2 separate regions of the Homo sapiens genome follow, and region 2 is linked to region 1. A link means that fine-mapping ties the variant in region 1 to the expression of a gene that starts in the linked region. Tissue or cell type: nasal epithelium. Region 1 holds a variant in brackets; the other region holds the start of a gene. All regions are shown on one strand. Distances are from middle to middle.

What was found. PIP is the estimated chance that this variant, and not a neighbour inherited with it, causes the effect.
Region 2: CSGALNACT1 starts here. The variant in region 1 is fine-mapped to the expression of CSGALNACT1 in nasal epithelium (TOPMed, PIP above 0.99). The same link has a PIP of 0.9 or more in whole blood.

What each region holds. Positions count from the first base shown.
Region 1 is chr8:19,681,321-19,684,076 of GRCh38, reverse strand. The region is part of intron 1 of CSGALNACT1 (chondroitin sulfate N-acetylgalactosaminyltransferase 1); the gene reads left to right. All of the region lies in intron 1 of CSGALNACT1-AS1 (CSGALNACT1 antisense RNA 1), which reads right to left. Among named protein-coding and RNA genes, the nearest start is that of CSGALNACT1-AS1, 4.2 kb to the right of the region's middle. The variant T/C (reference allele first, on the strand shown) is at 1,326.
Region 2 is chr8:19,755,827-19,758,327 of GRCh38, reverse strand. CSGALNACT1 (chondroitin sulfate N-acetylgalactosaminyltransferase 1) reads left to right here and starts at 1,051. Exons shown (of 9, transcript NM_001354483.2): 1 at 1,051-1,142.

The DNA.
Region 1 (2,756 bases):
CTCCTGCTTCAGCCTCCCAAGTAGCTGGGATTACAGGTGTGTGCCGCCATACCCGGCTAATTTTTATATTTTTAGTATAGACGGGGTTTCACCATGTTGGGGATGTTGGTTTTGAACTCCTGACCTCAGATGATCCACCTGCCTTGGCCTTCCAAAGTGCTGGGATTACAGGCATGAGCCACCACTCCTGGCCTTACTACATATTTTTATATTTGGTAGAATGTGGTCTTGCCCTCTGTCCCTCAATAGCTTTTCCTTAAAAAAAAAAATACTTTCTTGACTTTTCTTACATTTATTACACTATGAAAGCTTAAGAATCATTTTTGCCAAGCTGTAGAAAAAATCCTTTTGGGATTTAATTAGATTAATATTCATTTTACATAAATTTTGAAAGACTTGAGATCTATATAATAAATTACTTTCCAGGTATATGGTCTGTCTATTCCATTTTCCTTTCATGTGCTTGGTATTTTTTGTGTGTTTTTGGCAAATTTTTAATGTTCAGTTCTAGGTAGTTATTTTTAATATCAGTTACGAAAGGGACTGTATAGCCCTCTTCCACAATCTTTTCTAACTGGCTGCCATTGGTGTGTGGAAAGGCTATTTTTAAAAGAACTTGACACCTTACCAAACTCTTAGTAATTCTAATGGTTTTTAAATTGTCAGAGCTTTTTTTGCCTTGCTTCTACTTTCTGAAACCCATTTTTAGAGTGGTTTCTCATGACCAAGATCCTGATAAAATGCCATGACAACTGGCCCCCAGGCTGTGGGAGGTGGCGAGGGTCATGTGGCTATAGGCAGGCTTCCTAATCACAGTGATCGTGGTTGAGCAAAGTAGAGTAAAGGTGATGCCGCACAGACCTTGTAGAATTTTACACATCGTGGAAAAGCCTGACCAAGTGTGAACTCTGTAGCACAGATTGAACCATAGCACAGATCAAATCCTAACACCTGATCTGACATTTCATTCCATTATGTCCTGTGATCGCACACAGTTGCCTATCTGTTCCCGTCCATCCTGTCTGGCAATGGCAAATCACGGTCTCCAGGGTCATTTAAAGGGATGCTGTGTTCAGGGTGAACTCGTTCTACCTGCTCTTTGGTTTACGAAGGACTGCAGCGAAGTGAACTAGCGATGGATAAGTACAGGTAATTGGGATTTCATATATGGTCATGGGGTTGCTTGACAGCGGTCTGCAGTTGGACCTGTGAGGGCTGCTGACTGCAGTGTCCTGGCCCTGATTGCAGAACAGGATAGTGTTATCTGTGCTGGCCGGAAAGGCTGCTTAAAACCAGACCTCAAACTTGGGCAGACGGGCTTGTTC[T/C]GGGATCCGCAGCCTTGCTCAGGCTGTGCATTGGTGTGGCCCCGAATTGCACGGAGGTGAGTAACCCAAGACTTGTGTCAATGGCTTCCTTGTGGTTTTGGCTGTTGTTGCCTGAATATTTTACACAATCTTTGGGCTCTGAAGTCCCAGTGTACATCAGTGAGTGCTCTCCTTAGGTGGAAACCCTGGGAGTAGAGTACTGACAGCAAAGACCGGGAAAGACCATACGTCCCCGGGCAGGGGTGACAACAGGTGTCATCTTTTTGATCTCGTGTGTGGGTGAGTGGCAGAGGGAAGTTTCCTTTATTGGGTGTGAAATTTGCTGCAACTTTCTGTTTGGGGAGTGCTGGGAGCTGTTTTGTTTCTAATTAAGAAGAGCCCTAGGAAGGGAGGTAAGTGAGCTTGCCAACTCATTAGCAAACACTCTGATTAGACCTTCTGGGCACATTGCCTAGCGGCCCAAAGCAGGGAGAGGAGAGACAGGCTCGCTCCTAACACTTGCTGGACCCGAGGCAGGAGTACAAACAGAGGCTCACATTCCATGTGTCTAAGTAGCTGTTTCCAAGTTCTAAGTCAAGCTCTCTAAAAATCAGGTCCTATACTGCCATCCTGGTAAATAAACACGACCTTCACAACAACCTGGAAGCCAGGCTCCAATGTAGAATTCTCAGACTCCTCAAGTTTCTTGTCCAAAATCTTTCTGTGGTACAGGGAGACATCCCTGGCCACAGGTCCCAAGTCTGTCTACACCTCTGCAGACAACCTCTCTTATGCAAACTGGTGAAGTGCTTCACCCTTGAGAAAATGGACACTGGCAGGTAAAGCAGCAGGCCCAGGGAGACCTGGAGTGTGACCCAGAAGGTGGGGTGGTGTCCAGGTGAACATGTCTTGGGGGCCCTGTGAACTCTGCCCTATGACATGGTGTGGCTAGAGAAGGTGTGAGCAGTGCCTTCTGAGCATGGTGCTCAGGGCACGGGCCCAGACTCTGGCCCAGCCTGGCATTCCCAGGGCAGGGGACAGAGATGGGAGGAGTTGAGGGAGCAAGTGGGAACTTGGAAGCACATCCAGGCCAGATGAGGTGCTGCAAGTGCCGAGGTCAGGCACTTCAAGCGTAGGAACCCTTGGACGTACCAAATTATGGTTTTAGAAATGTCTGTTTGTTATTTTTAGATTTGGGCAGTATGTCGCCTGCAGATTTACCACTTACCTGATGCAGACCCAGGAGACTTGTCTTGTATCTGCTCTGACCTCTCTCCTCCCAGGTCCCTAGGTCCCCAGTTCTTCCTTTTAATGTTGTGCTGGTGGCGACAGAAGTCTGCTGTGATGGAGGAGCCAGCGATGGGGATGGGGGCGCGAAGGACAGATGCACCATTTCCCCCTTTGCCTCTCTCTCCCGCTGCATTTATGGATCTGCTGGTCTAGTTCTCATTC
Region 2 (2,501 bases), 74 kb before region 1:
TCCCAGATGGAGACTCTGAGCCAGGCAGTAGAAGGAGCCATGGCCAGGTAGTAGAAAGAGCACTGCCTCAGGAGTCATAGGACTGGTTTCCAGCTCCGGTTCTGCGGTGGCTCAGCCCTGGGGCCTCTGCAAGTTGCTTAACCGCATCTGCAGGTGATGACCTCTTCCAGTCTAACTGACTCCTCCTGAGTCCCCCTCAATTACACTGAAAATTGGCGATCCTATTTCCCAACTCCCTCTCCCACAGAGATGCGCTGGAGCACTTACAGATAAAAGGCGACCTGTGGCCCTGGAGGGTGCCTGCCTGTGTGTGCTGGAGGTGGCGGTGGATCTTTTATTACCCAACACTCCACTTGCCTTTTTAGCCTTTCCTCTCCCTCTTCTCTCCTGGCCTCCCAGTGGCCGTCAGGGGTCCCTGCAGACATCGCTTACCCACAGTGGTGCGGTGTGAGAGTTACAGGGGTTCCTGACCTTCGCTGTAAGTAAAAGCTCTCTAGGGGAGGCGTTATAGCTGACCAGGGCAGCAGAGACCGCGACTAAAGCGTGAATTCCCCGAAGTGCGATTTACAAAGTTTTTGCATGGAAGTCGGCGCTCGGCGGGGAGGGCAGCCAAGGGAACAGAGCGGGTGGAGCAGGGGGATGGGGAACTCTGTCCTGCAAGAGTAAGGACCCCATGGAGATTGGACACCTCTCTCCTGCAACTCGGGCCACGCCACAGTGTCCTAGTCTCTAAACTTCTCCGGCTCTTGGTGTCCAGTCACGCGTAAACCGCCCCTGGTGTCCGAGCGCGGCCCCTTCCGAGAGTGACAGGCTTCGGCCAGGGCGCCGCTCCGACGGGCGCAGGGACGCACTGCAGAGAGGCCGTGGGTGACGCGGAGGTACGCGGCCAACCGCGACCCCAGCCCGGCCTTGGCCGCCCCCGCCGGACCTACCCTGCGGCGGGGCGCCAGGCTTGGCCGCTGTTGCGCCCGCCCGCCCGAGCCGCCGCCGCCGCCGCTGCTCCCCGCCCCCGGGGTCCCTGGAGGCTCCGCGGCTGCCGGAGCGGGAGGTGGAGCCGAGTCCGCGGCGGCCGCGCAGGAGGGAAAGTTCAGCGACGGCGGCAGCGGCCGGAGCCGGGCCGGGCAGCTAGCAGGGCGCTTCGGGTGAGTCGGGTCCCCTCCCGGGCCAGCCGGGCGCGGTGTGCCGCGCGGGGGCGTCAGTGGCGCCGGCAGATCCCCACAGCCCCGCGCGCCTAGCTCGCGCCCGCCCACCCCGCGACCTCGGGGTGGCTCGTGCAGCTGCGGAGGACGGTGCCGCGCCTGGCCTCCCTCCGCCGCTGCCCGCCGGGGGCCCAGGGCACGGGCAGGGGCCGGGGACCGGCTTGGCAGGCGGAGGGCGCGGCGCCTCCAGGTGGGCGCGCGGGGACGCGGAGGGAGCTTCCAGGGAGGGTCCGGGGCCGCTGCGCTCCCGGGGTCGGTTTGGCTTCACCAGCGTTTCTCGTGGCCTTCCGCTGTCTGATTGCTTTCTGCAAAACCCACTGAAAAGTAGCCTTTCCACGTGCCGCGCGATGACTGCGGTTATTGTATTATTGTGGCTGGGATGGAGAGGGTGGAGGGGGCGTGACGAGGGTGGCCGGTGGGCAGCGCGCTCGCCTGCCCGGGACCGGGCTAGTGGGGGATGTGGCTGAGGGTCACCGCTGCCCGAACATGCCCAGGGGACGTGCGATCGGTGGGCAGAAGCTGTTCGAGGGCATGATCTTGGGGTGGGATGGGGGCTAGAAGGGCGGGGAGGAGAGGAAAGCTGTAGGAAGCGGAGGCAAAGTTGTTTGTTTCCGTCGCACTTCCTGCACCTGCATTCCTGTCAGAGATTTTGAAGTTATCTTTTCATCGATGAGCAAAGAATGGTGAGAAAGGAAGAGATGTTAACAGCACTGTGCCTGCCAAAACAGTGAGCCTCGGGAAATACTCATAAGTGAAATACTAATAAAAAGCATGGAGTGGTTAAATTTCACAAACTCCACTTTTCTTCTGGTTTCAAAGCCTTGGTGCAGTTTTTACTTAACGTCATTAGATACGTCTAGATAATAAAGGTAATGAAGTGTTCTTTCACGGTTTTTTTTTTTAAACTGGAAATTTAAATTTAATTCTGTAGGATTTCGTCGACATTGTTCCTACAAGAAAGTCAAATTACCTTGGTGTTACTTGCAACAGTGAGCATTAATAAGCCCTGTGCAGTGCTGAAATGTTGCTAATTGGAGGGAGAAAGGTCCTTCAAACTTGGAAATAGACGCAGAAAGGCAAGATGAATTTTTATGTAAGCCTTAGGCATAAAAGGCGACTTGAACACGTTTTGTAATAGTGCATAATACACAGGGGACTAGGTGTTGGGCTGCCGGAAGATGGTCAATTCCTAGAAAGCAAGAGACGGGCCATACCCATTGTAAGATCACCGTACATATTTAATAATTCGTCTGCCTTGAGCTGCCACACCATATGTACTCCACATAATACAATATCAAAATA